Regions from separate parts of the Homo sapiens genome. Here all the other regions are linked to region 1. The links come from fine-mapping of genetic effects on gene expression. A gene starts in region 1. Each other region holds a variant in brackets. All regions are shown on one strand. Distances are from middle to middle. Region 1 holds the start of NDUFA2 (NADH:ubiquinone oxidoreductase subunit A2). Region 2 has its middle 21 kb from the start of PSD2-AS1. Region 3 overlaps LOC105378198 (a long non-coding RNA gene).

What was found. PIP is the estimated chance that this variant, and not a neighbour inherited with it, causes the effect.
Region 2: its variant is fine-mapped to the expression of NDUFA2 in monocytes after LPS (Fairfax 2014, PIP 0.95).
Region 3: its variant is fine-mapped to the expression of NDUFA2 in whole blood (TOPMed, PIP 0.90).

The regions. Positions count from the first base shown.
Region 1 is chr5:140,642,315-140,652,626 of GRCh38, forward strand. It overlaps NDUFA2 (NADH:ubiquinone oxidoreductase subunit A2), which reads right to left and starts at 5,316. Exons shown (of 3, transcript NM_002488.5): 1 at 5,169-5,316; 2 at 4,942-5,048; 3 at 2,971-3,364. The coding sequence starts at 5,269. The coding sequence ends at 3,273. It overlaps TMCO6 (transmembrane and coiled-coil domains 6), which reads left to right. Exons shown (of 12, transcript NM_018502.5): 5 at 1-105; 6 at 272-357; 7 at 611-727; 8 at 1,250-1,361; 9 at 1,466-1,652; 10 at 1,786-1,880; 11 at 2,259-2,426; 12 at 2,671-3,090. The coding sequence ends at 2,784. It overlaps IK (IK cytokine), which reads left to right and starts at 5,515. Exons shown (of 20, transcript NM_006083.4): 1 at 5,515-5,610; 2 at 6,157-6,223; 3 at 9,400-9,492; 4 at 9,774-9,833. The coding sequence starts at 5,595. MIR3655 (microRNA 3655) reads left to right here and starts at 5,530; the gene lies at 5,530-5,612. RefSeq lists enhancers at 4,894-5,313, 5,054-5,589.
Region 2 is chr5:139,762,267-139,772,578 of GRCh38, forward strand. It overlaps a transcript of PSD2 not described here. Among named protein-coding and RNA genes, the nearest start is that of PSD2-AS1, 21 kb to the left of the region's middle. RefSeq lists enhancers at 41-704, 705-1,367, 1,368-2,031. The variant C/CTTCTCTCTTTCT (reference allele first, on the strand shown) is at 4,562.
Region 3 is chr5:140,749,446-140,759,757 of GRCh38, forward strand. LOC105378198 (a long non-coding RNA gene) reads left to right here. Exons shown (of 4, transcript XR_001742904.2): 4 at 8,513-8,635. Among named protein-coding and RNA genes, the nearest start is that of PCDHA1, 32 kb to the right of the region's middle. The variant C/T (reference allele first, on the strand shown) is at 5,680.

The DNA.
Region 1 (10,312 bases):
GAGCTGTGTCTGTATACACTGGGTAACCTGATCGTGGAGAGTGAGGCTGTGAGAAGGCAGCTCCTGCCACAGGGCATTGTTCCAGCCTTGGCTGCCTGCATCCAGGTGACTCCTTTCTTCCTCCCTGGGCAACCCTTCCTTTGCTCCTCCCCACATGCTCCATCTACTTTGGTTAGGTAGCTCCAGCCTCTGCCCTGTGCCAAGGGGCTGAAAGTCTCTGAAGACCTGATGACCCAGCTTCCAGTCAGATCCTTACCCTGTCTACTTCCAGTCCCCCCATGTGGCTGTGCTGGAAGCTCTCGGATATGCCTTGTCCCAGCTTCTACAGGCTGAGGAAGCTCCAGAGAAGATCATTCCGTGAGTAAAATTGTCTTTAGATGTGCAGCCAGAGGTGACCCACTCAGTAGTATAGCTCCCGGATGCCTGAATGATTTCCAAAGCTGTTGCACATTTTAAATTCATGTGTCTGGCTAGGAAGGGCTTTGGGTTTGGACACTTTCCCATCTGGGCAGGGCTTTGGGTTTGGACACTCTCCCACCTGCTATCAGGGTTTGGTAAGAACCACTGGCATCTTCGTGGTTCCTACTTACAGCCCTGCTTCTGCCAGCAGCTCCATCTTGGCCTCCACTCTCCCTCAGCACATGCTACAAATGTTGCAACCTGGCCCAAAGCTCAACCCTGGGGTCGCTGTGGAGTTTGCCTGGTGCCTTCATTACATCATCTGCAGGTAACAGGGCAATTGGGAAAGTACCACAGATCTTCCCTGGGGCTCCCTTCCATGACATTCAACTCTTTGAACTTGTGTCTGGAATTGCTATAGTGAGTTTTCCTCCCTCCACTGTCTTCTCTTTTTGGAGCCCAGGAGACCCACAGACCTTAGCTGTTTCTCTTTTTTTTTGAGACAGTCTCACTCTGTCACCCAGGCTGGATGGAGTACAGTGGTGCGATCTCAGCTCACTGCAACCTCTGCCTCCCGGGTTCAAGCGATTCTCCTGCCTCAGCCTCCTGAGTAGCTGAGACTACAGATGCGTGCCACTATGCCCGGCTAATTTTTGTATTTCTAATAGAGACGGAGTTTCGCCATGTTGGCCAGGCTGGTCTCAAACTCCTGACCTCAGGTGATCCACCCACCTCAGCCTCCCAAAGTGCTGGGATTACAGGCATAAGCCACCACGCCTAGGCAACTGCTTCTCTTCTTAAAGGTGGAATTGACTATATACCTAGGGACTGCTTGCTTCCTGTTGCCCAGCCAGGTCAGCAATCCTCTGCTCATTGGCCATGGGGCTCTGTCTACTCTGGGGTTGCTGCTGTTGGACTTGGCTGGGGCTGTCCAGAAAACCGAGGATGCAGGACTGGAGCTGGTAGGTGAAGATGTCAGGTGAAATTCTGGGAGATGTTTCTTGATACTCTGGAATGCAGGTAACCTCTTCCTTCTTACACCTGACCCCCCAATTTGTCTTTGCAGCTGGCATGCCCCGTGCTTCGATGTCTAAGCAACCTGCTAACTGAGGCAGCAGTGGAGACTGTGGGAGGGCAAATGCAGCTCAGAGATGAGCGTGTTGTGGCAGCCTTATTTATCCTTCTGCAGTTCTTTTTCCAGAAACAGCCCAGTCTGCTCCCTGAGGGCCTTTGGCTCCTCAACAACCTCACTGGTACGCACCATAATCTGCCCAGGCCTGGACATTTGGATAATGGGGATATTTCCTCATGGCCTAGGCTGAGGTGGGTAGTATTGACAGGGGTGGTGGGGGAAAGCAGTTTTTCACCCTGGTACTTCTCTTCCAGCAAACAGTCCTAGTTTCTGTACCTCCTTGCTCTCCCTGGATCTGATTGAGCCTCTCTTACAGCTGTTGCCAGTATCTAACGTGGTGAGCGTAATGGTATGTATTGGGGTTACTTGAATCCAAGATCTGGTAGTCGGATTGTATGGGACAGCAGTCCTGAGCCCTCAGATGTACCCTTAGTTGAGAGCCAGCAGGTGGTGGTGTGTGGCCTCAGGGCCCAACCAATCTAGGTGTGTGTCCCTTAAACTGGATTATTTATCCTTGGACAAATCAACTAACCACCTTAAGCTTCAGTCTCCTCACTTATAACTGAGGATAATCTTGCATCATAGGGTAGTTGTAGGAGTATGAGAACATGTATGTAGAAGAGCTTGGCATGGTGCCTGGGCATGTGGTCACCATGTCATATATTTTAGCTATTGTTATGATCTTTGTGTTTCATTCTTTGTAGACTATATATGTGTCTATCTGCAGGTGCTCACAGTTCTGTGCAATGTTGCAGAAAAGGGTCCTGCTTACTGCCAGCGGCTGTGGCCAGGGCCCCTGCTTCCCGCCTTGCTGCACACACTAGCCTTTTCTGACACTGAAGTAGTAGGCCAGAGTTTGGAGCTGCTGCATCTGCTGTTCCTGTATCAGCCAGAGGTATAGGTTTCTGGCCCACATCCTCAGTCACCCCTGTTCTGAAGCCACACAGTGGCTCCCTTCCCATCCAGTCCTAACTATAGTTGTTTCTCTGGGCCTGGCTAACCTATATAGGTTCCATGTCAGAAACTTCATCCTCTTGTTGGGGAATGCACCCTCTGGAGTAGGCTGACCCATGAGGCTGTGGGAATTGAGTCTTAGGACACAGAGACCAGGTGTGTTGAATTTTCTTCCCTGCCCCTAGGCTGTTCAGGTCTTCCTGCAGCAGTCAGGGCTGCAAGCCCTGGAAAGGCATCAGGAAGAGGCCCAGCTCCAGGATCGTGTGTATGCTCTCCAGCAGACAGCTCTTCAAGGGTGATCTTGTTTCTCAATGTCACTCATTCCCCTCTCTCTTAACATCAAGCTTGTTTGTCCAGTAGAGCCTTTGGAGATTTAGGACCATAATGAGGTCTCATGTTCTCTGCTCCCACACCTAAGCCAAGACCTTTGGGTCCCAGCTCCTCCCCTTCCACTCAGCACTATCCAGGCAGGAGGACCAAAAGGGACTCAGTGTGGTCTACTTACTCTGGGGCCCTAGAATCCCTGCCCCCCCGCCACCCTTCATGTTTGCTTCAGCAGCTGGTAGCTTTTGATGAGACAGAATAAAGTTTTATTTTTATATTAAGCTACTTTGCCTCAGTGGTTGCACAGTAAGGGGTAGAGGGTAGATGAGGACAAGAACACCCTGAGAAAGTATTTTACAGCACAAGCTTTATGAGGAATAGGAGAACACATTTTTTTCACATTATACTAAGTCCAGCAGAGCCCAGGCTCTGGGGCTGTTGCTCTTAATCCTCAGTGGAGGCTTCAGGCTTTACCACTTAGAACGTTCTCCAGGGCTCTGGTTACCTGATCAGCACTGAAGTTGTTCAAAGGGACATTCGTCTCTTGGCCAAATGCTGAAGAGAGAGAGGGAGGTGTCTTTAACTATTCTGCACCCTGGAGGCTACCAAAGTAAAATAAAAGATCTTTGTCTTTATCTTAGTCTTGTTAAGACAGGAAGAGTATTAAAGAGATATGATCAAAATACATTTGGTATGCCTAGAATTAATACAATAGGTCTCAAACACATCTAGGAAGCCCAAGTCCAAATAGAATTTTGGCTGATTCTGGATGGCCGCAATGGGTTGTTTCAGGGAAGCTTTCGGGGGCACTGTAGGCATTTATTATTAACTACGGTGAGCAATGTATTGCATGGGTCCAGCCTCAGCTGGGAGCCCATTCTCTCTCTTTTTTTTTTTTTTTTTTTGAGACGGAGTCTCGCTCTGTCACCCAGGCTGGAGTGTGGTGGCACGATCTCCACTCACTGCAACCTCCACCTCCTGGGTTCAAGCAATTCTCCTGCCTCAGCCTCCTGAGTAGCTGGGATTACAGGTGCCCGCCACCACACCCGGCTAATTTTTGTATGTTTAGTAGAGACGGGGTTTTACCATGTTGGCCAGGCTGGTCTTGAACTCCTGACCTCAGGTGATCCACCTGCTTCAGCCTCCCAAAGTGCTGGGATTACAGGCGTGAACCACCGCACCCAGCTGGGTACCCATTCTCTAGGCTCCCATAGGCTATCTAACATAATACCCAGCACAATACACTAAAGTTACTCGTGTCTATCTCCTCCTGTAGTCTACTGGCTTTTGGAAGGAGAAGCTTTTTTCCTTCTCCAATTATTAGTGCATGTCTAATGTCTACTGTGTCTCACAGATATCTACTCTGAGAACCAATCTGCTTAAGGTGGTCACTCTCCTCCACCTCCTCCCGTCATTCCCAGGGCACCATATAGTTAAAAGCTGTGATTAAAATCCTGTTATTCAGTATGTATAAACATTTATTGCATACCTACAATGTGTTAGGCAACATGATAGGAAAATTTCATTTTGCAATACATTGCCATGCCAGTCTTAGAGGGGTAAGTGCATTCTAGGAAGGGGAATAAATGTAAAGGCTCAATCCTGTTAAACTCTAGCTGCATCTAAAGTTGCAGCTAGAGTTTAACAATAGTGCAAAACAAAGTTTTGATTCCGTTTTCTAATCTCTACAGTGAGAAAAGAAGAACACGCTTCCTCCTAACTAATGAAGATTAAATGAGTTAGGCAGGGAAGCACTCAGCACAGGGCCCAGCTCTATGTGCAAAATTACTGAGATTCTCACACACTACCTGGACTGACACTGGCTACACGTTATTTGGAGAAACTATATTGACTAACTTCTCTCCTGTCTGAAGCCCATTCTTAACTACAAAAACGTCAGCTCCTGGTCCCTACGCAGGATTCGGTCAGCCTGCATACTTATGTTGCCCGGAATACAACGCATCATATAACCCTGCGAATATAAATTTCTTCATGGAAACAAGATCAACAGCAAGGCTAAAGTCCGAGTTCTAGTTTCTCCACGGGTTTCTGCACGACCTTGGGCGGTCCCTTCTCTTCTCAAACCCTTGTTCCCCTACCGGAGCCCCAGACCCCTGGCGTCCCGCACTCACCGTAGCGGGCCCAGAGCTTGGGCTGCACATCGGAGCATTCGCGGATTAGGATGGGTAGGTCGGGATTCGCCTTCTTCAGCTCCACGTAGCGTTTCTCAATGAAGTCCCTGCGGGGCCGGAGAGAGCGCCGCGCGTGCTGTGGGCGGGGGCTTCCCTCAACTTCAGGGAGGTCGAGGTCGTGACCCTGGCGTCCCGAAGCCCGCCCGCCTCACCACGCCGCGCCTCACCTGACGCCCTGGCTGCCGGGCGAGCGCTGACATAAGTGGATGCGAATCTCACGCAGGCCCAGCTTTGCCCCGACTCCTCGACTTGCTGCGGCCGCCGCCATCCTTGTTAATATCGAAGTCGCCAATTCCAGGTCTTCAGGCCAAGTGCTCCGGTCTGACCAACCGCGGACCCTAAAGCCTAGCCCATAGGCTGCATGAGGCAGGGGCGGGGTAAAGCTTGGCCAATGATATAAAAGTATTGTAGGACCGCTGCGAGGTCAATTTCTTTGCGCTCGGGGTTGGTCGGAGGGAAAAACAGGAAGCGGAAAGGCTGCGAACGCAAAGCAGTGTGGGTTGATTCTGAGGTGCACTGTGGGAAAGAGCTTGTCGCTGCGGTGTTGCTGTTGGAGACTCGATTGTTGGTGACAGCGAAAGAACGATAACAAAATGCCGGAGCGAGATAGTAAGGCTCAGGCCATCCGTTATTTCTTCCCCATGGCACTTGGGGCACTTGGCGCATTATTGTAGCTTCTGAGCTTAAGCCGGGTGTGTGTGTGTGTGTGTGTGTGTGTGTGTGTGTGTGTATGTATGTATGTGTGACGCTTGAGCCCGGAGAAGCCACAGGGTCCTAAGTGAGGCCGACAGCTCCAAACTCCGTCCCCAGTCCTCACTCCTACTCCAAGTGATGATGGGCGGCTTTTGTGCGTGGATCGCTTTCCCCCAGTCCTGTCCCCATACTTAATCCTGGGTTGCGCGTATTTATCTTTTACGTAGTATTTTAGACGTGATCTTCCGGAAGTCTTCTCTGATCCTCCAGCGCAGGATTAGGGTCCTCTGCTTTGTGCTCCCACAGCTTCTTGTAGTTTCCTATTTCAGCACTTATTACATTGTGTTGACACTGTCGCTGTTCTAACTTTTGTTCTGTATTGTTCACTACTATATCTCAAATTTTTGCATAGGATCTGACACGTAAGAGACTGATTAAATTAACGTCAATTTTTTTTGTCAGGTGAGCCGTTCTCCAACCCTTTGGCCCCCGATGGCCACGATGTGGATGATCCTCACTCCTTCCACCAGTGAGTATTTTGTGCTAGGACCATGGAAATGAGTTGGGCAATGAATAGAAAAGTGGTGGTGATGGTGAAAGAATTCTGAATGTCTTGTCATCAAGGATGGTAAAAAATTATACCCGCTGGCCCTTTATCTCTGTGAGCCTTAACTGGATCAGGCCAAGTGCATAAGGGTATTAGAAGGGAAATTCCTGCAGGAAAGGTGTTAAGTTTTTTTTTTTTTTTATACGTGTTGTGTAATTACACATTATATAGGAATTACTTCTTCCAATAGCAAATTAAAACATAGGAAATAAGGGTAAAATCATCTTTTTATTTTTTTTGAGACTGAGTTTCGCTCTTGTTGCTCAGGCTGGAATGCAGTGGTGCGATCTCGGCTCACCACAACCTCCGCCTCCCGGGTTCAAGCAATTCTCCTGCCTCAGCCTTCCGAGTAGCTGGGATTACAGGCATGTTCCACTACGCCCGGCTAATTTTGTATTTTTAGTAGAGATGGGGTTTCTCCATGTTGATCAGGCTGGTCTTGAAATCCCGACTTCAGGTGATCCACCCGCCTCTGCCTCCCAAAGTGGTGGGAGTACAGGCGTGAGCCACCGTGCCTGGCCCCCGATAAAATCATCTTTGATAACATCCCCAATTCCAGTCCATTTCTTTTTTTTTTTCTTTTCTTTTCTTTTCTTTCTTTTTTTTTTTTTTTGAGACGGAGTCTCACTGTTACCCAGGCTGGAGTGCAGTGATGCAATCTTGGCTCACTGCAACCTCTGCCTCCTGAGTTCAAGCGGTTCTCCTGCCTCAGCCTCCCAAGTAGCTGGGACTACAGGCATGTGCCACCATGCACGACTGATTTTTTTTTTTGTATTTTTAGTAGAGACAGGGTTTCACTGTGTTCGTCAGGCTGGTCTTGAACTCCTGGCCTGAAGTGATCCACCCGCCTCAGCCTCCTAAAGTGCTGGCATTACAGGCGTGAGCCACCGTGCCCAGCCTCAGTCCTTTTCTTAGAAGTAACCACAGTTACCTTTTTTGGCATATCTTTTCCTCCCGTTGCCCAGGCTGGAGTTCAATGGCATTATTTCTGCTCACAGCAACCTTTGCCTCCTGGGCTCAAGCAATTCTTCTGCCTCAGTTTCCCCAGTAGCTGGGATTACAGGCATGCCCCACCATGCTTGGCTAATTTTTGTATTAGTAGAGACAGGGTTTCGCTATGTTGGCCAGGCTGGTCTTGAACTCCTGACCTCAAATGATCTGCCCGTCTCGGCGGCCCAAAGTGCTGGGATTACAGGCGTGAGCCACTGCGCCTGGCCCTCCTACTCTTTTTTAAATGCATTTATACACATACATGCATATCTGAGGAAAACACAACATTGCTTTGTGATTTAAAATATTTGAGTTAAATGATATTATGCTGTATATATCATTTTTGCAACTTGCTTCTTTTTAAACCCTGCTCAGTGTTTCTGAGATTATCTTTCAGAGCAGTGACAAGCATTCCCTCCTTGGCTAAACTTTAGTCAGGTTCCCCAAAGAGTCCCATTTTTCAGCAGGACTCATCCGTGGCCTGCTGAGCACAGTTTTAACAAAGAAATCAACCACCGCTCCACCCCCATACCTAACCAAGTTGCTTTTAGTAATTTTCTATAAATTCTCACTTGTCCCTGTTGTATTCGGAATTAAGTTCAGTCTCTCTACTCTATTACAATGGTCTTGACTCTTGTTACAGTAGTCTTCAATAAAGTCTTCCTTGGGGAGAAGAGGAACTTGATTAGATATCAAGTTGGATTGGATATCAAGAGTGGGAAAACTTTCTGTGAACTGACTTAGGATTCCTTTTTAAAACTGAGGTCAGCAGGCCAAGGAAGAGCCCTAGTCAGAAGAGAGCTTTAAAGGAGTCTGACTTTAATTTGATCAAGAGAGGAGTCTTTGTTAGTGTACCAATTAAAATAATCTCTTGTACCATTAGTGCTGTCTTTCCCTCTTTGGGAAACACCATCATAGTTTAGTCAGTCTCCAGCTAATAAACGCTTAGTCTGTTTCAGACTGATTCTTTTCTTTTTTTTATTTTTTTGAGACAGAGTCTTGCTCTTTTTGCCCAGGCTGGAGTGTAATACCTAGATCTCGGCTCACTGCAAACTCCGCCTCCCAGGTTCAAGCGATTTTCCTGCCTCAGCCTCCTGAGTAGCTAGGATTACAGGCGCCCACCACAACGCCCAGCTAATTTTTTTGTATTTTTAGTAGAGATGGGATATCACCATGTTGGCCATGCTGGTCTTGAACTCCTGACCTCGGGTGATCCGCCTGCGTCAGCCTCCCAAAGTGCGGCGATTATAGGTGTGAGCCACTGCACCCGGCCAGACTGATTATTTTCAAGGCTATAACTGAATTAAATTTACAGGCCTTCTTATATACATATGTCAGTAATGGACCAGGCTAAATATAAATAAATGGAGTTGCTGGCTCATAGGATATATATACTTAAATTTTAACAAATACTGCAAAATTGCCCTTCAAATTGGTTATACTGGTTTACATTCTCATCAGCATTATATGAGAGAGTCCCCTTCCCAAATTCTCACTCACACTTGATTTATCAAACTTTCTGGTAGTTAACACTCTGATGCATTAAAAGTGGCATGGCATATCTGGTCGGGCGTGGTGGCTTACACCTATAATCCCAGCACTTTGGGAGGCTGAGGTGGGCAGATCACCTGAGGTCAGAAGTTTGGGACCAGCCTGGCCAACACCTCTAATAAAAATACAAAAATTAGCTGGGTGTGTTGGCGGGCACCTGTATTCCCAGCTACTTGTGAGGCTGAGGCAGGAGAATTACTTGAACCCAGGAGGCAGAGGTTGCAGTGGGCTGAGATCATGCCACTGCACTCCAGCCGGGGCAACAGAGGGAGACTCTGTCTTAAAAAAAAAAAAAAAAAGCTGGGTGCGGTGGCTCATCCCTATAATCCCAGCACTTTGGGAGGCCGAGGTGGGTGGATCACAAGGTCAGGAGTTCAAGACCAGCCTGGCCAATATGGGTGACAGTGAGACTCCGTCTCAAAAAAAAAAAAACAGTGTCATATCTTTGTTTTAATTTGTATTTCCCTGATTTCTGTTAATTTAATCATGATTTTTACTTGTTCCTTTTTCATTTCTTATTGAGTCCTAATATTTAAAATCTTTGCCTTTTCTTCTAGATCAAAACTCACCAATGAAGACTTCAGGAAACTTCTCATGACCCCCAGGGCTGCACCTACCTCTGCACCACCTTCTAAGTCACGTCACCATGAGTAAGTCTTTGGGTGATCCAACCTGTCTCCCAACTTGTTTCTTGCTCCTTCCTATTTCTTTCTACTAAGTAGAATGACTTTTAATAGTCCCTCAGGTATTTATGATACTCTCTAAAGTTTGAGAACTGCCCACCTACAAATATTGGTGTGGATTTCTGCTTGATTGAAAGTGTTACTTTGATCAGTATTCTAGGTCTTTCTAAAAATCCTCAAGGAGACTTCTTGGGGTTTCTGGGGCTGTGGCAATATTTTGCTATCAGTGAATTTCTCGTCTCTTCTAGGATGCCAAGGGAGTACAATGAGGATGAAGACCCAGCTGCACGAAGGAGGAAAAAGAAAAGGTGAAGGAAGGGTGAAGGGTTTTAGATTTTAAGGTGGATAGTGTTTAGGGGAAAGAAGTAGGGGCTAATTATGAAGCTAGAAACTAAGATTTTGTCTTGAGGCTCTCTACTTTCTTAATGAAACAGAGTGATACTTAGAGTGGCAGTAGAGGGCTTTGGAATAGGCCTATCTATATTTTAATCTCATCTTCGCTAGTTTCTTGGTGGATAACCTAGACATTTGCTTAGCCTCTCTAATCCACAGATAGAATGGAGATACAGTAGCAATAATAACTTTTATCAGGATGTCATGAGGATCAGCTGTGAAAGTACATGTAGGCATTTAGCACCAATGCCTGGCATATGGTAACCACCCAATAAATCTTGACGGCCATCATCATTATTATATCATCATCGTTATTTATATGATACGAAAGTTTCAGGACCTGGTACTTGGCTTTTCCTTTATTCTGAGAGTGGACCAGCAAATAATACGTTCT
Region 2 (10,312 bases), 880 kb before region 1:
TCCTAACCTCAGGTGATCCACCTGCCTTGGCCTCCCGAAGTGTTGGGATTACAGGCATGAACCACCACGCCCAGTCCTTCATTCGTTTTTTCTTAAGACAGGGTCTTGCTCTGTTGCCCAGGCTGGAGTGCAGTGGCGCAATCATAGCTCACTGCAGCCTCAAACTGGGGCTCAAACGATCCTCCCACCTCAGCCTCTTGACTAGCTAGGACTACAGGTGTGCACCACAATGCCTATCTAAGTAAAGAAATGTTATGTATAGACCCAGGTATCCCCTGTATTGCCCATGCTGAGCGCTCAATAATTGTTGCCTATTGTTAGTTGAAGTACCAGGTTGCTTGTTGAGGTCACAGAGGGGTCAACCAATTGTCACCCTCTTCTAGCTTGGCCCTAGATGGCCTTTTTTAGCGTGTCCAAGAGAGGAGGGTCATCTACCCTGCAGACAGTACTCCACTCAGAAAGGCTACAGACCCCTCCCGGCAGACCCCTCCCGGCAGAGCCAGCCCCCTTTCCTGCCAGGGGGATGGCAGGACAGGAGGCCTGGCTGGGGAGGTGGTGGGGCTGTGGCAGCAGAGAGGGGAGGCAAAGGTTGGCAGAGTGGGGAGAGATGGCCTGGGGGGAGAGCAGCGGAGTCGCTGGGGAGAGAGGGAGGCTGTTGCGCTATAAATACCTTCCAGGTAACAGGACCCATAAATGAAGGGAGGGAATTAGTCACATTCTGCAGCGCCTCAGAGAGAGGACAGGGAGCAATGACCTGAATCCACGGAAGGAAAAAAATTAGGCTAACCTTGTTGGGTGAGGGGGAGGTTAGGGGCCGGATGCTGTGCCTCCTCAGTGGGGTGCCTGAACAGGCTCTGCTGGGCGGGCCCAGGGAGGAATAACCCTGGCAGGAGGGGTCTGGAAGAAACATCTTGTCTATTCCCTCCAGATGTGTGAGGTGTGTGGGACTCTTCCTTTTCTTCTCAAGGATCTCCTGGCCTCTCTCTGAACCTCACACCCATTCCTCCTGGGAAGTCCTTCCAGGAGTCTAGCCCAGTTGTTCTTCACGTCACTCTGAAGCATGTTTTCATTCACTGCGCTCACTGTCTTTAAGCCCTGGCTCCCCCTGGGGTGCCCACCTTGTCAGGCATCTAGCTCTGGGGTCATTCCCTGGGTTCCCAATCAGGCAGAAGGATCTTTGCCGGGGAAGGCAAGAAGGCCGTGTCCTACTTCCACTCTGGACTCAAGCCGAGTGGGCCCACTTGTCCCTTGCTGGGATGATGACCATGGCCTGTGCTCTAGTCTCCTAGCTCCAGCTTCACCTGCCCTGGGCCAGCCCCTCACCCCCAGGGTTGCCAGAGCAATAGTCAGGCATGCCCTCCCTTGCTCACACCTTCCCTGCTCCTCTCGGAATGGAGGCCAGTCCCCTCGGCCTGGCACAGCGAGCCTCCAGGATTGGCCTCCAAGCAGCTTCCTAACCACATCTTCTGCCTTTGCTCTCACACCCAGCCTGCCAGTCTACATTCTCCAGGTCTTTGCACCAGCTGTTCTTTCAGCCTAGTGTTCCTGCCTCTTGCTATGCCTGGTCGACTTGCGTTTTCTCCCAAGACCCGAGCTTGAGTCTGAAATTCTCTCTGCTGCCTCCCCAGCTGAGTTGGGTCCTCCCTCATCTGTGCTTCGGAAATTCTCCAGCAAAGGTAGTCTGGGGAAGTCACCAAGATCCAATTGGGAAGTCCAGCTCTGCCTCACCCTGACTACATGGCCTCTGGTGAATAGATGAGCTCTCCTGTGCCTCAGTTTCCCCATCTGTGAAAAGGAGTTCTCACAGTGCTTCCCAAGGGTTTTACAGTTTAGGCAAGATCCTGCATGAGGAGGGCTGAGCACACAGTCAGCGGGTGGCTGTTGTTGGGGTCACAGTATTGATCACACTGTTTCTGTGTCTGCCTCCCCTGCGGGCTGCGAGATGGGGAGGGAGGGGGGCAGTGCAGCGTCCCCGTGTGACTTGTCGCCGCCACAACCGCAGTGGCCAGCTCGCGCCTGGCACTGAGACCGTAAGCAAATGTTTGCTGAATTAATGAGTGGGGGCTGCAGGGAGGGCTTGGGCTGCAGTTCCGCCTGGGCTGCTGCAGCTGGGGCGCGTACGTACATCCGTGTGCCCCTGGGAGTGTGAGTGAGGGGCGCCTGTGGGTGGGGGAGCCATATCCGTGTCCCGGGGGTCTGGCGGCGCCGTGGGCAGCCTGGCGCGCCCGCTCCCTGGGGTCCCCGCCGAGCGCCTGCCTGGCTGCGGGACCCCGTTGCCAGGAGCAGTCAGGATGCGGCAGCGTCTCCATGGCAACGCGGCATCTCGAGCCGCGCGCCGCCCTCCCCCGGCGCCCCGCAGTGGGCAGGAGGCCGAGCCTGGCAGCCCCTCCCGGCCCAGCAGCCAGCAAGCTGGGCCAGGAGGCCGAAACCTGATGGGAGGGGCTGAGCAGGGGGCTCCTTATTTTCTAGGGATAAGGGGCTGACCTGCCTTTACTTCCCACCTCATCTGGGGGAGGTAGATAATAGAGCCTGTCCTCTGTCTATGAGCAGCACCCTCCACACCCGCCAGGAAAGCAGGAATAGGTTCTGGTCAGGGCAGGATACCCTCACTGGCGAAGGGACATTTCTGATCTAAGTCCTGGCTGTGAAAGTGGCGCTGTTGTGAGGGGCACTGAGGCACAGCCAGGGAAGTGCCATACTGTTCCAGGGCTTCAGTGTGACCCCAGTGACTTCCATGACCCACCCGATGTCCACCCATGTCCCCACTTCTCATAGATAATGCCCAGTACCTGCCACGAACCCTTCCAACGCCCCCTCACCCTCTCAGTTGTGCCATATCCCCAGACCCACTCAGTACTTCCCACTGCGGGTTCCGTGACCCTCCCACCCCTGGTTCCCACTCAGTGCCCCTTCTGCTCGCTATCTTCACACTGCCTTCCAGTTCTTCCCAGCACACAATGTCTCCAGTTGTTATTCAGTACCCCCAGTGCCTACGCAGTGGTACTTCCAACATGCACTCAGGGCCCCCGTTACCACCAGGAAACCACCCAGCGCCCTCTTTCCAGTTTAGGCTTGGTACCACTTAAATAGCCCCCAGGGACCACCCACTGCCCCCAGTACCTGCCCGGTGGCCCCCAGTGCCCTCCTATTAATCGGCCCAGTACCCTGCACATCCACTGTAGTTCCCCACCTCTTCGTACTTCTGTTCACCTAGTGCTAACCACTACAATCTCGTTCTGCCCAGTATATTCCCACCATGCAGCCCCTTGCCACATTATTTCCAGATAAATCCCCATTCGCCCCCTTGCCCACCTCCCACCCTCCAAGCCCAAGCTCCGCCGGGCCGCAGTGCTCGCAGCGGCCAGGAGGGGGAGAGAGCGAGTAGTCAGCAGGAGACCGAAGCGCGGGGCGCGGCTGGGGAGAGGGTCGAGGGGCAGCATCCAAGGCCGTCTTCTTACAAGGGCTGAATCCGAGCCCAGGGTGCGGCTGCGTTCCGGGGGGGTTCCTCCCGGAGTGACCGCACCCCTGCCCCGCATCTTCTGCAAACCCCTCCGGGTCCGCCGCCACCGCCGCCGTCGTGGCTTTGGCTCTGAGAAGGGGCGCGCGCCCTCTGGTGGCTGCTGAGCAGTACAGCTTCCTAGGCCGATGAGAGGACGCCGCTCTGGCCCGGGGTGGTGCGTTCGTTCCCTCTCTCTTTCCCTGTCCTCCTTTTTTGGGCCTGTCCTCAAGCTGGCGGCGATGGGGTGACGGCAAGCCAGGCCCCTCTGTGGTGGCTGGGTAGAGAGCCTGGGGTCTGGATGAAGGGAGAACATTGGGTAGGGAGGTGTGGAACCAGGGCCTGGGGAGAGGGACCGCGGAGCAGAATGGTGGTGGGGGTGGATCGCTGAGTCCACAGATGAAGGACTAACAGATGGATCTGAACTCAGGAAGTCTACAATCTGAGCTGTGATTCGATGTGCTGTTTGTAGAAGGGGGCGATACAGGATTGGTGGCAGTAGGGTGAGGCCTCCCTTCCAGGCCTGGCAGTTCTATCTGGCCCTAAGCCTTTCATGGGATACTTGTTGATGGACCTACCCTTCGATGACTCTGTTTCTGCCTCTGCCCGTCTACCAGCGCCTAGCCTTCTTTTCACCTGCCTGGGCCTGTTTCTCAGTCTTCAGCAGTCCTGGAATGGTGGGGGGCACCCTCTCCCTGTCCCACAATATGGGGTTTTCTCTCCTCTGTGTATGGGGGAAATGGATGGAGCTAGAGCAGAAGGGACCCAGGTTAGACTCTTGCAGTCTGTCCTGAGTTTAGGTGACCTTGGCCTGTAGGACCCTCCATGGTTAGATCTGTGATTTTGTGCCCATTCCAGCAGCCCCACCTCGATGGATTAATAAGTTCCCTTAGACTTAAAGGTCCTTAGAGATGCCTCCTCCATCCTCGCCATTGCCTGGCTGGGGAAACTGAGACACCCAGCAGGTTAAGAATTGCTCTAGGGCGAATAGAGGGGTAGGCATCAGGATAGTAAGGTGATAAAGAGCACTGACTGGCCTGGGTTTGAGTCTGGGCAAGTCCCTTC[C/CTTCTCTCTTTCT]TTCTTTCTTTCTTTCTTTCTTTCTTTCTTTCTTTCTTTCTTTCTTTCTTTCTTTCTTTCCTTCTTTCCCTCTTTCCCTCCCTTCCTTCCTTCCTTCCTTCCCTTCTTTCTTTCTTTCTTTCTTTCTTTCTTTCTTTCTTTCTTTCTTTCTTTCTTTCTTTCTTTCTTTCCTTCTTTCTTTCTTTCTCAGAGTCTCGCTCTGTCACCCAGGCTGGAGTGCAGTGGCACAATCTCGGCTCACTGCAAGCTCTGCCTCCCAGGTTCACACCATTCTACTGCCTCAGCCTCCCGAGTAGCTGGGACTACAGGCACCCGCCACCTTGCCCAGCTAATTTTTTTTGTATTTTTAGTAGAGACAGATTTCACCGTGTTAGCCAGGATGGTCTCGATCTCCTGACCTCGTGATCCGCCTGCCTCGGCCTCCCAAAGTGCTGGGATTACAGGCGTGAGCCACCGCACCCAGCCACCATCTTTCTTTCTTTCTTCCTTTTATTTTTATTTTTTAAAGACAGAATCCCACTCTATTGCCCAGGCTGGAGTGCAATGTCACGATCTCAGATCACTGCAACCTCCACCTCCCGGATTCAAGGGATTCTTATGCCTCAGTCTCCCAAGTAGCTGGGATTACAGGCATGCACCACCATGCCCAGCTAATTTTTGTATTTTTAGTAGAGACGGGGTTTCCCCATGTTGGCCAGGCTGGTCTCGAACTCCTGATCTCAAGTGATCTGCCCACCTCGGCCTCCCAGAGTGCTGGGATTACAGATGTGAGACACGGCATCTGGCCCCTCCTGTCTTTGTAAGCATCAGTTTTCTTATTTATAAAATGAGGATCAAAACTCTACCTACTTCCCAGGAGAGCTGTAAAGATTCAGTCAGATGAGGATGATATTGGAGAGAATAATAACAATGATTGGAGCTGTTAATAATGTTAACTGAGCACTCACTTTGTGCCAGGTGCTGTGCAAAGTGATTCAGCACATGCAATCCAAGAGGTTATATACCAGCTTGACAGAGGTAAGGCTCTTGCTCAGAGGCTCTCAGTGATGACCAGCTCACAGGCAGAGTGACAAAGCCCCTACCAGGTCTAGTGCCTGACCCCAGGGCACCAGGATGAGTTCCAGAGTCCTCTGCCTCAGCTAGGGCTGGAGGCAGAGAGAGGGACAAGAAGACCTTGAGCTGTCCCCTGTGCAGTGCTCCCCTGTCCCCTGGGCCTGGCTCAGATATCTGGCCCCCCGCCAGGGAGGGCAAAGGGGCTGGTTGATGGAGGTAGCACGTGTCCCAGCCTGGGCAGCTGAACCTGGGGGCCTTGCCCCGGAACCTGGAACCTTTCCTGCAAAGGGAATATCCTACAGCAGGAAGGAAGGAAGTGGGGAGGGGGAGGAAGAGGAGGGAGAAAGGATAGGACAGGCCCCAGCTGGGAGAGAGTTCTCTCCCAGACAGGCCAAGAAAAGAGGACCTCTGGACTCCAGGCTGAGAGGCCAGTGGGCTGGTCACCCTGGCTGCGGTTTAGATGTGTGTAGTGGGGGAGAGGAGGGCATAAAAAGAGAATGTGACCCACTCACTGCCCTCTGTTTCCTCATTTGTGTAACAGGTATAAAAACACCTTCCTTGGCCAGGCATGGTGGCTCAAGTCTGTAATCCCAGCACTTTGGGAGGCCGAGGTGGGTGGATCGCCTGAGGAAGGGAGTTCGAGACTAGCCTGACCAACATGGAGAAACCCCCGTCTCTACTAAAAATACAAAATTAGCTGGGCTTGGTGGCGCATGCCTGTAATCCCAGCTATTTGGGAGGCTGAGGCAGGAGAATTGCTTGAACCTGGGAGGCAGAGGTTGCTGTGAGCCGAGATCAAGCCATTGCACTCCAGCCTGGGCAACAAGAGCAAAACTCCATCTAAAAAAAAAAAAAAAACAACACCTCCCTCCCTCCTGGGCTGGATGGGAGTAAAAAAGTGAGGTCAGGAATGTAAAGAGCCAATCGGGCCTGCAACATGGTGGGTGCATCATGCCTCTCAGTCCCTCCACCCTGGACTAACTGTCTGATCTGTAAGACAAGACAGTAGCTCATGCAGAGTCCAGACTCCCACAGCCTGTGAACTCATGCGTTCAGTCAACAACATTATTGAGCACCTACTACGTGTTGGGGTCTGGGGCTATTGCCCTGAACAGGAGCCAGTCCCTGCCCTCATGGAATTCTGTCATTGGTGGAGGGTAGGGGAAGATGAGTCACCAGGCAGTGATGTTGGAGAAGCACAGGGCCTGTGACCCAGCCTGGTGGGTTGGGGAAGACTTCCTGAAGGAGGTGATATTCATGCCAGGACCCAGAGGGAGTGTGCATAGTCTGAAGAAGGAGCATGGTGGGAAGAGGGCTCCAGGCAAAGGGAAGAACAGGCACAGAGCCTAAGACCCAGGGCAAGCAGGGCTACGGCTGCAGCAGAGCAGGTGGCGGCGGGGGTTGGGGGAGAGGAGGACGGGCCTCAGGCCTCAGGGATAGGGCTGTGGGTATTTTCCTGACAGCAAAAATCCAGAGAAGCTTCTAGACAGGGGTGGCATGGTCAGAGTGCGATAAGTCCCAATGGAGGGCACTCAGGGCCTCCATGTGACCTGCTACCTCTATGCCCTCATCTCTCCCAGCTCCTCTGTGGGGGGCAGCCAGGCTGTAGCACTTGTGGCTCCTCAGGCTTCCCACCTTCCTTCATTATAAAGACTTCTCCCCTGCCTGAACTGCCCTCCTGTACTGAACCTCACCTATGGGCAGGGGACTGTGGTGGCTTGAGTTCTCATCTGTCCAGCACTTGCCCAGCCCTTCAGGGACACACCTTTGTTCCCTAAAGGTGAAGTGAGTCATAGATGCCCCACCTTCACCTCCTACCTGGCCATGGGTGGCCTTGTGACCCAGGCTGGGTCAGTCATTGCACTTCGGACTCAAGACACTGATGGTGGCAGTGGGGGGCAGTGCCCTGAGTTGGGCCAGCCACAGTCCTCCTTGGAAGTTTCCATCTGGCTTGCGGTGAGGGTGGAGGTGGGGCAGCTTCATTGACGTGGGGTCACACAGGGCCCCATGCTCACCAGGGCCTGCTTACCTTAATGCTCTGCTGTAGCTGTCTTGAAATGTCTCATAATTTCATCTTTGAACTTGTGTTTTGTAAGTGGGGTCCAGTGGGACAGTGGAGCATGCGGTACACAGAGAGGTAGAACCTGGGTGTCATGCGGGCCGGCTGGGGCTCCTGTGTGCATGCAGTGCTGGTGATGCCCGTGAGCACAGGATTCTGATGACCCCACCACATGTGGGGGCTCAGCAAGACTCAAAGTGAGTGTAAGGTAAGCTTGTTATGTCTACAACTGAGTAAGAGGAACGCTGACAGCCCTGAGGGACCTCACCATCCATTTCAACCAGAACTTGCCAGATGCAAGAAGAAGGCAATTGTGTGCTAAGAAACATGAACAGGGCCTGTCTTGGTGACTCACGCCTGTAATCCCAGCACTTTGGGGAGCTGAGGCAGGTGGATCTCCTGAGGTCAGGAGCTCGAGACCAGCCTGGCCAACATGGTGAAACCCCATCTCTACTAAAATACAAAAATTAGCTGGTCGTGGTGGCAGGCGGACTATAATCCCAGCTGCTCAGGAGGCTGAGGCAGGAGAATTAGGAGAATTGCTTGAACTGGGGAGTCGGAGGTTGCAGAGAGCTGAGATCGCGGCACTACACTCCAGCCTGGGCAACAGAGCGAGACTCCGTGTCAAAAAAACAAACAAACAAACAAAAAAACATGAATGGCCCAGGAACCCTGCTATAGCCTTCTTCCTCATGTTATTTCGCTGGATAAGCCAACCGCTGACACTAATCATGATGAGCTAGGACAGGGACAGATCAGGCAACCTGTAGTTCCTTTCCTTTCAGCCCCTCCTCACACATCATAAGCTAAAAGCAGAGCATGTTGAGAGAATGTGCATAAGTCAAGAAAAGAAATGAAAACAGTTGAGTAAGTTTTGTGCCCTTTCCCACCATTTCAGGTAAGATGAAATACACATGTGTGCACAAGGTACTGAATACAAATTATACGATTTTGATGATTCTGCATATGAGTTAAACACCCTTATATTTGCATTTAAAACTGACATTGCACAATAGAAAGATGAATAGTAAAATTCATGCTAGTCATTTAGATTTTTCATTTTTCTTTACTTAAAATGATATTTAACAAATACAAACTCATGACAAATCTAGAGGCAGACCAACAGAAAAGAAGCGAAGCTTTATATATCTCTAGGTACAGATACATAGATACTTTTATATTTTAGCGCCTTTATTATTAGGCATTTCCCTCCTGCTTTTTGAACAAGAAGCTCCACATTTTCATTTTGTGCTGGGTCCCATGTTGTGACTGGCCCGGGTGGCGGAGTCTCTATTTTAGGGTGAGGAATTGCGGGCCTGGGGACCCGGGGCTGCCCCACCCCTGGGCACTCCCTCTGTGGTGGAGCCGCCGTGGTGGGTAAGGCCCTGAATAGCCTGAGCGCAGGAGTGCAGGCAGGAAGCAGGCCTGCTTTCTTTTCTTTTCTTTTCTTTTTTTTTGAGATGGAGTCTCACTCTGTCGCCCAGGCTGGAGTGCAGTGGCACAATCTCGGCTCACTGCAAGCTCCGCCTCCTGGGTTCACGCCATTCTCCTGCCTCAGCCTCCCGAGTAGCTGGGACTACAGGCGCCCGCCACCACGCCCGGCTAATTTTTTGTATTTTTAGTAGAGATGGGGTTTCACCGTGTTAACTAGGATGGTCTCGATTTCCTGACCTCGTGATCCGCCCACCTCGGCCTCCCAAAGTGCTGGGATTACAGTCTTGAGCCACCGCGCCCCGCAGCCTGCTTTCCTTTCTATAACATTCTTCCCAGCTGGTGCAAGGTCTGGCTGTCCCTGGAGTCTGGCTCTCTCCCTGGTGTGCCACAGGCTATTTAGGGTCTGGGGCAGTGTAGCGCATATGGGGAAGTAAGTTCTCTCAGACTTCAAGATGCTGTTGCCCCTGGCCTTGGGGGGCATCTTCACTGACCACTGGGCTGCCATCCAAGGACCACGGTCCAACCCCTTCCAAGGGCAGGGCCTGCAGAGGGGCCTCAGAAACGGTGTTGCGGGACTGGAGATGGGCTTCTGTCTCCTCGCTCCCAGCACCCTTCCCCAGCCAGGTGAGGGAGAGGTAGTGGGTTCTCTCCTTGGCTTGCTCTTAGGGGACAATGAGAGGAGGAACGGAAAGCCCTTGGCAGGGATCAGTTAGCAGCCAGGCCTCCTGTGCGAGGCCCTCTCCCTAGAGGCAGAGGGAGTGGGAGTGGGAGTGGAAGGGCAGCTGGGTGGGAGGAAAAAGCGTCCCCAGACTGGGTCCTTGAAGGCAGCACAGGGGGCATTAGATCCCTCCTCCCGCTCTATGACTTTGACTCTAGTCCCAGACCCAGCAGCTCAGCCAAGTTCTCTGAGCCTGTTTCCTTCTTTATATTGTGGCTAATGACTATACCTGCCCCAAGGACTGTTGAGAGCATTCTCCGAGCCGATCTGTAAAAAGCATTTGGTGCAGAGCTGGGCACTTAGAGGTCTCGGTTCATGGAGCCCCTCCTCCCCTGCTGTGAAGAGGAGGTTGGTGATCCAGTGAGGCCTCCCTGCTCTGCGACCAGGAACACCTTCTGTCCCCTCTCCTTCTCCCTGTCCCAGGGCCTCCTTCTTTCATCTCTCCTCCTCGTCCCCTCCTTTTCTCTCTGCTGTTCCTCTAGCATGC
Region 3 (10,312 bases), 110 kb after region 1:
CTTCCAATACTATTTTGAAAAGAAGTGGGGAGAGAGGACATCCTTGTCTTGTGCCAGTTCTCAAGAGGAATGCTTCCAGATTTTGCCCATTCAGTATGATGTTGGCTGTGGGTTTGTCATAGATGGCTCTTATTATTTGAGATATGTTTCTTCACTACCTAGTTTACTGAGAGCTTTTAGCATACAGTTGAGTTGAAATTTATCACCTTTTTTGCATCTATTGAAATAATCATGTGGTTTTTGTCTTTAGTTCTGTTTATGTGATGAATCACATTTATTGATTTTCATGTGTTGAACCAACCTTGCATCCTAGGAATAAAGCCTATTTGGTCATGGTGGATAAACTTTCTGATATGCTACTGGATTCAGTTTGCCAGTATTTTGTTGAGGAGTTTTGCACTGATGCTCATCACAGATATTGTGCTGAAGTTTTCTTTTTGTGTGTGTGTGTCTCTGCCAGGTTTTGGTATCAGAATGATGCTGGCCTCTTAGAATGAGTTAGGGAGAAATCCCTCCTCCTCAATTTTTTGGAATAGTTTCAGTAGGAATAGTACCAGCTCTTGTTTGTACTTCTGGTAGAGTTCAGCTGTGAATCCATCTGGTCTTGGGATTGTTTTTGGATAGGGTACTTATTACTGATTCAATTTCAGAGCTCATAATTAGTCTGTTCAGGGATTCAGTTTCTTCCTGGTTCATTCTTGGGAGGGTGTATATATCCAGGAATATATCCATTTCTTCTAGATTTTCTAGTTTGTGTGCATAGAGGCATTCATAATATTCTCTGATGGTTATTTGTATTTCTGGGGGGTCAGTGGTAATACCCGCTTTGTCCTTTCTAATTGTGTTTATTTGGATCTTCTCTCTTTTCTTCTTTATTAGTCAAGCTAGTGGCCTGTCTTATTAATTTTTTCAAAAAAGCCAACTTCTGGATTCATTGTTCTTTTCTTGTTGTTTATTCAATGATCTTTTGAATGGTTTTTTGTGTCTCAATATCCTTCAGTTCAACTCTGATTTTGGTTACTTCTTGTTTTCTGCTAGTTTTGGGGTTGGTTTGCTCCTAGTACTGTAGTTCTTTTTTTTTTTTTTTTTTTTGAGTTGGAGTCTCACTCTGTCACCCAGGCTGGAGTGCAATGGCAGTCTTGGCTCACTGCAACCTCCACCTCCCGAGTTCGTGTGATTCTCATGCCTCAGCTTCCTGAGTAGCTGGGATTACAGGCTCACACCACCATGCCCGGCTAATTTTTGTATTTTTAGTAGGGATAGGGTTTTGTCATGTTAGCCAGGCTGGTCTCAAATACCTGACCTCAAGTAATCCACCCGCCTCAGCCTCCCAAAGTGCTGGAGTTGCAGGCATGGACCACTGTGCCCAGCCAAGACCTGTCTAACTTTTTGATGTGGGCATTTAGTGCTATAAATTTTCCTCTTAACACTGCCTAGCTGTGTCCCAGAGATTCTGGTATGCTGTAACTTTGTTCTCTTTGGTTTCAAAGAACATCTTGATTTCTGCCTTAATTTCATTATTTAACCAAAAGTCATTTATGAGCAGTTTGTTTAATTTTCATGAAATTGTATGGTTTTGAGCTAGTTTCTTAGTCTTCATTTCTAATTTTATTGCATTGTGGTTGGTATAAGAGTAGTTGGTATAATGTCAGTTCTTTTGCATTTGCTGAGGATTGGTTTACATCTAATTGTATGGTTGATTTTAGAGTACGTGCCATGTGACAATGAGAAGAATGTATATTCTGTTGTTTTTGGATGGAGAGTTCCTTAGATGTCTATCAGGTCCATTTGATCCAGTGCTGAGTTCAGGTCCTGAATAGCTTTGTTAATTTTCTGACTTGATGCTTAGTCTAGTACTGTCAGCGGGGTGTTGAAGTCTCTCACTATTATTGTGTGGGAGTCTGAGTCTCTTTGAAGGTCCCTAAGAACTTGCTTTATGAATCTGGATGCTCCTGTGTTGTGTGCATACATATTTGGGTAGATCTTCTTATTGAATCTTTTACCAAAATATAACGCCTTTCTTTGTCTTTTTTGATCTTTGTTGGTTTAAAGTCTGTTTTGTATGAGATTAGGACTGTAACCCCTGCTTTTATCTGATTCCATTTGCTTGGTAGATTTTCCTCCATCTCTTTATTTTGAGCCTACGGATGTTATTGTGTGTGAGATGGTCAGATGAAGACAGCATACCTTTAGGTATTGCTTTTTTATCCAGCTTGCCACTCTGTTCCTTCAATTGGGGCATTTAGCCCATTTATATTCAAGGTTAGTATTGATATGTGTGGATTTGATCCTGTCATCATGTTAGCTGGTTATTATAGATACTTGTTTGTGTGGTTGCTTTACAATGTTACTGGCCTGTGTACATGAGTGTGTTTTTGTAGTGGTTGGTAATGGTCTTTCTTTTCCATATTTAGTGCTTCCTTCAGGAGCTCTTGTAAGGCAGGTCTGGTGGTAACGAATTCCCTTAGCATTTGCTTGTATGTAAAGGATCTTACTTATGTTTCGCTTATGAAGCTTAGTTTAGGTGGATATGATATTCTTGGTTGGAATTTCTTTTCTTTAAGGATGTTGAATATTGGCTCCCAATCTCTTCTGGCTTGTAGGGTTTCTGCTAAGAGGTCCACTGTTAGTCTTATGGGCTTCCCTTTGTAGGTGACCTGACCTTTTTCTCTAACTGCTTTTAACATCTTTTCTTTCACTTCAACCTTGGGGAATATGATGATTATGTGTTTTGGGGATTATCTTCTTATGAACTATCTTTATTGGGGTTCTCTCATTTCCTGAATTTGAATGTTGGCCTCTCTAGTTAGGTTGGGGAAGTTCTCATGGATGATATCCTGAAATATGTTTTCCAAGTTGGTTCCATTCTTCCCATCTCTTTCAGGGACACCAATACATCATAGCTTTGGTTTCTTTACATAACCCCATATTTCTTAGAGGTCTTCGTCTTCCTTTTCATTCTTTTTTTATTGATTACTGTCTGACTGTCTTATTTCAGAAAGCTAGTCTTTAAGCTCTGACATTCTTTCCTCAGCTTGGCCTGTTCTGCTATTAATACTTGCAATTGCACTATGAAATTCTTTTTTTTTTTAAATTCTTATAGTGTGTTTTTTTAGCTGTCATGTTGGTTATGTTCTTTTCTATACTGGCTATTTTGTCTGGCAGCTTCTGCATTGTTTTATTGTGATTCTTAGCTTCTGTGGATTGTGTTTCAATGTAGTCCTGCATCTTGATTATCTTCATTCCTATCCGTATTCTGAATTCTGTTTCCATCATTTCAGTCATTTCAGCCTCTTTCAGAACTCTTGCTGGAGAGTTAGTGCAGTCGTTTGGAGGAATAAAGGCATTCTCACTTGTTGAGTTGTCAGATCTTGTGCTGGTTCTTTCTCATCTTTGTGGGCTGATGTTTCTTCAATCTTTGAAGTTGCTGTCCTTTGATGGGTTTTTTCTTTTATCCCATTTGATGACCTCAAGGGTTTGATTGTGGTATAAGGTGGGTTCAGTTGACCGGCTTTGTCTCTGGAAGATTTCAGGGGGCCAAGGCTCAGCTCACAACTCCTGGACTACGTGCTCTAACTCTAGGGGACCAATACTGGACCCCAACTTTGTTTTCTGGCTCCTTGAGGTTAGGAACTCACTGCACTGGGTAGACTGAGGTGCTCCTGCATCTTTGGTTTCAGCATTCCTACAGGTGGTGACAGTCAAAGCATTTCATAAGGCAGTGGCAGCGGGGTCCATCCTCATTTGCATGTGCCAGAAGCAGCATGGCAGGGTACATGCTTATTGGCTGTAGCCTGGTGCTCATGGGTGTTCGGGCATTCATAACAGTGGCAGAGACAGCATGGCTCAGGGGTTGGGGTCCCTGCTGGTGACTGACTGCGTGTGTGGTTTGCTGGTGGTGGTGTTAGCATGGGGGCAAGGTGCTGGCAGGTGCAGGACTGTGTGCACCTTCTGTGTGTTTTCATGTAGGTGGAGGTGGTCACTTAGGGCAGTGGAGGGTCCACTCTTCTCTGCCTAGTTTCACTCTGGTGACAATGTTGGTGCTGGGGCAGGGTGCTGGTGGTGGCTGGGCTGCACTCTGACTACAGTGGAAGTATGATGGGGGAGGTGGTGGAGTGGACTGCACTTACCCCAGCAGCAGTGGCAGCAGAGGGTTCATGGGCACACACATGCTGGTAGGACAGGGAAGGTAAAATCCACCCATGCACATATACTCCAGCAATATAGGGGTGGTTGTGGGCCTGGAGTGAGGGGAGGGAGTGGGTGGGCTGGTGCAGTCTGCCAGCGCAGGAGCTATGATGCAGCCCCCCGAGGGCACTCGAGGCTGCATTGCAAGCAGGTGCAGCCAGGCTGGGGCCCTGCGAGAGGTCAGCAGGCAAAGGGGTGCTCACGTCAGACTGGCCTCATTTGGTGGGCAAGACTGCCCTGAGAGCTCATGTCCAACAGTTCCCCTAGGGCTAAAGTCTCTTATGGGAGCAAATCAAGCCTAGGGGGATGGGCATCCCTGATTATGCTTCACTACAGACATTACCACAACAAACCCTCTGGGCTCTGCACCAGCTGGAGTGCTTCCCCTACCACTTCTCTAAGCAGCTCTCCCTGCCAACTCAAGTGTCCATGGTGGTTGAGGGGTCTCCTCCTGCCCAGATTCCAGAGGCATGTGGTGAGGGCAGGTTGCTCCTTTCCAGTTCAACTTGCTCCTTCCCCTGGAGTAATTGGGGGCTTTTTTTCAGGTTTGATATCGGAGTAATGCTGGCCTCGCAGAATGAGTTTGAATGTATTCTCTCCTCTTTAGTATTTTGAAATATTTTGAGAATAATTGGTATTCTTCTTCTTTTTTTTTTTTTTTTTTTTTGGGACAGAGTCTTGCACTATCTCCCAGGCTGGAGTGCAGTGGTGCGATCTCGGCTCACTGCAAGCTCAGCCTCCCAGGTTCACGCCGTTCTCCTGCCTCAGCCTCCCGAGTAGCGGGGACTACAGGCGCCCGCCATCACGCCCGGCTAATTTTTTGTATTTTTAGTAGAGACGGGATCTCACCGTGTTAGCCAGGATGGTCTCGATTTCCTGACCTCGTGATCCACCCGCCTTGGACTCCCAAAGTGCTGGGATTACAGGCATGAGCCGCCGCGCCCGGTTTTTATTCTTCTTTAAATGTTGGTAGAATTCAGTAGTGAAACTACCAGGTATTGGGCTTTTCTTTGATGGGAGACTTTTTATTACTGATTCGATGTCCTTACTCATTATTGGTCTCTTGAAATTTTTTTATAACTTCATAATTCAATCTTAGTAGGTTGTATGTGTCCAGGAATTTATCTGTTTCTTCTAGGTTATTCCATTTGTTGGTGTAAAATTGTATAATAATGTCTTATGATCCTTTTTATTTCTGTGGTATCAGTTATAATGTCTCCTTTTTCATTATTGTTTTGTTTGTCTTCTCTCTATTTTCCTTAGGTAGTTTAGCTAACTGTTGGCTGGTTTTATTTTTTCTCAAAACACCAACTCTTAATTTTGTTGCTCTTTTGTATTTTTTTCAAGCCTCTATTTCATTTATTTATATGCTGATATTTTTTAGACGAGGCCTCACTCTGTCACCCAGGCTGGAATGCAGTGGTGTGATGTTGGCTCACTGCAACGTCTACTACCCAGGCTCAAGAGTTCCTCCCACCTCAGCCTCTTGAG[C/T]AGCTGAAACCACAGGCACCTGCCACCACGCCTGGCTATTTTTTTTTTTCATTTTTGGAAGAGATGGTGTTTCACCATGTTGCCCAGGCTGGTCTTGAACTCCTGTGCTCAAGTCATCCATATACCTCAGCCTCCCAAAGTGCTGGGATTACAGGCGTGAGCCACCTCATCTCACCTAAATTATGACCTTTATTACTTCCTTCTCCTAATTTTAGATTTAGTTTGTTCTTGTATTTCCAGTTCCTTGAGGTATAATGTTGGATTCTTTATTTGAAACCTTTCTTCTTTTTGAATGTAGGTGTTTATAGCTATAAACTTTTCTCTGAGAACTGCTTTTGCTGTATCCCATAAGTTTTGGTGCATTGTGTTTCCATTTCTATTTGTCCAAAAGGGATATTTAAATGTCTTTTAATTTCTTCATTGACTCATTGGTTTTTCAGGAGCATATTTACTCTCTATGAATGTATAAAGTTTCTGAAGTTCCTTCTGTTATTGATTTTTAGTTTTATATCATTGTGGTCAGAAGAGACAATTGATATGATTTCAATCTAAAATTTGTCAAGGCTTGTTTTGTGGCCTAACATATTATCTATTCTGTTAAATATTTTATGTACAGTTGAGAAGAATGTGTATTCTGCAGCTGTTGGATGGAATGTTCTGTAAATGTCTGCTAGGTCCATTTGGTCTACAGTGCAGTTTAAATCTGAAGTTTCTTTGTTGATTTTCTGTCTGGATGACCTGTCCATTGCTGAAAATGGATAGCAAATCCCCCTAATATCATTGTATTGCAGTCTTGTTCTCCCTTTAGATCTATTAATATTCGCTTTATATATTTAGGTGTTCCAATATTGGATGCTTTTGTATTTACAATTGTTATATCCTCTTGCTGAATTGAACTTTTATTATTATATAATGACTTTCATTGTCTCTTTTTAGAGTTTTTGACTTAAAGTTTATTTTATCTGATGTAAGTACAGCTATTCTTGCTCTCTTACAGTCTCCATTTGCATGGAAATTCTTTTTTTTTTTTTTTTTTGAGACAGAGTCTTGCTCTGTCGCCCAGGCTGAAGTGCAGTGGCATGAAATTATATTCATTAAGGTGAAGATAAAATGTGCTTTGGCATAATGAAAGAGTAGAACAGATTAAGAGAATCAGAAATCTGTGAGAGATGGGATGAATGTCACAATATTAAAGAGCTATATAGAATAATCAGGATAGACTTCATTAAGAAATTATATCTAACTTGAAGGATGTGAGGGAGTTAGCCAAGCTGTTTTCTTGGGGTAAAACATTTAAGGCAGAGGGAAAAACTACAGCAAATGCCCTAAGGAAGAAGAATGCTTATTGTGTTCAAGGAGTAGCAGAGACGTCTGTGTGCTTGGATCAGAGAGATAATAATTATTAGGAGGAAATGAGGCCAAGGTGGTAATAAAAGAAACAGATAACTTGGGTTTTCTTTGTCACTGTAAGTCTTTGCTTTCCTGAGGGAAATAGGAAGCTAGAGCTACTCTTTTTGGCACAGGAGTGATGTGGCTAAAGGATTACTCTGGCTGCCATATTAGAAATATGATGTAGGAGGAAAGGGTAAAAGCAGGAGGATACAATAAGAGCTATTTCAGTGACCTCAATGAAAGGTTATAATAATTTTGACCAGGGTGGCAGCGGTGGGGAAAATAAAATAATCAGATTATGAATATTTTTTCAAATGTTGAAAAATATCAAACCCATGGAAAACTTACAAAAACAGGACAATGAACGTTTATATAGTTGGTGAATCTAAGCTACCATTTGCCACATTCTTTCTCTCTCTCACTATGTATATTCATTTGGAGATATATGGAATAGATCTGTATCTATTTATATCTATCTATAGATACACACACACACTCACACACAGAGAAAGACTGTGTATGGTAAAATGTTAATTGTTAAATGCTTTTTACAATGTTAAAAGAATTTTACAGCTATTAAATCCTTTTACCTCATATTGAAACACTTCAGCATGTAACTCTCAAGAACAAGAATATACACCTCAAAATGGCAGCATGATGATTAAATTAGAATATTTAATCTTATTATAATTTGACTATCTAATATGCTGCCCATATTAAAGTTTCACAGATTTTCCAAATAATATATTTGATGGAATTTTTTTCTCTGACTTAGAATCACACATTGCACTTAGTTCCTAGGTCTGTTTAGCCCTATTTAATCTGAAATGGTTCTTAGCTTTTCTTTATTTTTGAAGATATTAACAAATTTTAAAGGGTACAAAAACCAATAGTTTTATAGAACGATCCTGAGTTTTAGCTTGTCTGATTATTTCCTTATAATCGCAGCAGAAATTAATATTATGACTTCTCAGTATAGCACATTGGAAGATACATAATGTCAGTTTGTCTCATTATTGGTGATGTAACTTGATTAGTGTTATGTTCACCAAGTTTCTCAACTGCAAATATACCATTTTTTCCTTGTAATTAATAACTAATTTGTAGGGAGATACATTGAAACTAATCACCAATAAGCTTTTACCCCAATGTTTTAGTATTTGTTGAAGATTCTTGTCTGAATCAATTATTCCTATGATGATTAAAAAATAGTAACTTTCAAATGGTCATTTATTCTACATGTATTAATTGGCATTCTTCTGTAAAAAATGTTCCCATTTCCCCTACCCCTGTTTAAGCCATATTTACATCTGTTCATATTAATGTATTCATTAGTATCCATTATTAGTCATTATTATATGGATTCTGTTTTATGCATTTTGTTATAATGCATTACTGTCATTATTCACTGTGGTATTCAAACTGTATCATATTTTTCCAGTGGGAGACCCTTCACATGTTTCCTGTGGTGTTTTTACAAGTATTCCCATAATTTTTGAGCAGTTTCTTACTTTCTGAAGAAAAAACAGATATTCGTTTCTTCTTGCACTTTTGTCACCACTATCCTGAGGTGAGTAATTTCTCCCAAAAGCCCTGTTTCCTTTTAGTGACGAGTGGTATTTATAATCTATATGTACTATTAATATACAGCCTTAGTGCCTAGCACATAAGAAGTGCTTAATACATACTCTTGAATACACAATTATAATGAGATTTATGTATTTGTTTTTGCCTTATGTTTGAAGTTTCATTTTAAAAGTCCTTTCTTGCCCCTATGTTTTAAAGGTATCACCCTATATTTCCTTCTATCAACATTATTGCTTTACCTCCATATTGTGTTTAATCTACTTGGAGTCCACCTTTGATTATTATGGTGTATACACACACATACCACACACACACACACACACACACACACCCCATATATATATTTTATGGTAATACCTAATTGGCCGAATCTTCCATCTTTCCACTTCATTTGTAATGCTGACATAAAATTTATTGATCTTTATGCTTCTTTTTTTTATTATACTTTACGTTCTAGGGTACATGTGCACAACGTGCAGGTTTGTTACATATGTACACATGTGCCATGTTGGTGTGCTGCATCCGTTAACTCGTCATTTACATTAGGTGTATCTCCTAATGCTATCCCTCCCGCCTCCCCCCACCCCACAACAGGCCCCAGTGTGTGATGTTCCCCTTCCTGTGTCCAAGTGTTCTCATTGTTCAATTCCCACCTATGAGTGAGAACATGCGGTGTTGGTTTTCTGTCCTTGTGATAGTTTGCTCAGAATGATGGTTTCCAGCTTCATCCATGTCCCTACAAAGGACACGAACTCATCCTTTTTTATGGCTGCATAGTCTTCCATGGTGTATATGTGCCACATTTTCTTAGTCCAGTCTATCACTGATGGGCATTTGGGTTGGTTCCAAGTCTTTGCTATTGTGAATAGTGCCGCAATAAACATACGTGTTCATGTGTCTTTACAGCAGCATGATTTATAATCCTTTGGGTATATACCCAGTAATGGGATGGCTGGGTCAAATGGTATTCCTAGTTCTAGATCCTTGAGGAATCGCCACACTGTCTTCCACCATGGTTGAACTAGTTTAGAGTCCCACCAACAGTGTAAAAGTGTTCCTATTTCTCCACATCCTCTCCAGCACCTGTTGTTTCCTGACTTTTTAATGATCGCCATTCTAACTGGTGTGAGATGGTATCTCATTGTGGTTTTGATTTGCATTTCTCTGATGGCCAGTGATGATGAGCATTTTTTCATGTGTCTGTTGGCTGCATAAATGTCTTCTCTTGAGAAGTGTCTGTTCATATCCTTTGCCCACTTTTTGATGGGGTTGTTTGTTTTTTTCTTGTAAATTTGTTTGAGTTCTTTGTAGATTCTGGATATTAGCCCTTTGTCAGATGAGTAGATTGCAAAAATTTTCTCCCATTCTGTAGGTTGGCTGTTCCCTCTGATGGTAGTTTCTTTTGCTGTGCAGAAGCTCTTTAGTTTAATTAGATCCCATTTGTCAATTTTGGCTTTTGTTGCCATTGCTTTTGGTGTTTTAGACATGAAGTCCTTGCCCATGCCTATGTCCTGAATGGTAGTGCCTAGGTTTTCTTCTAGGGTTTTTATGGTTTTAGGTCTAACATTTAAGTCTTTAATCCATCTTGAATTAATTTTTGTATAAGGTGTAAGGAAGGAATCCAGTTTCAGCTTTCTACATATGGCTAGCCAGT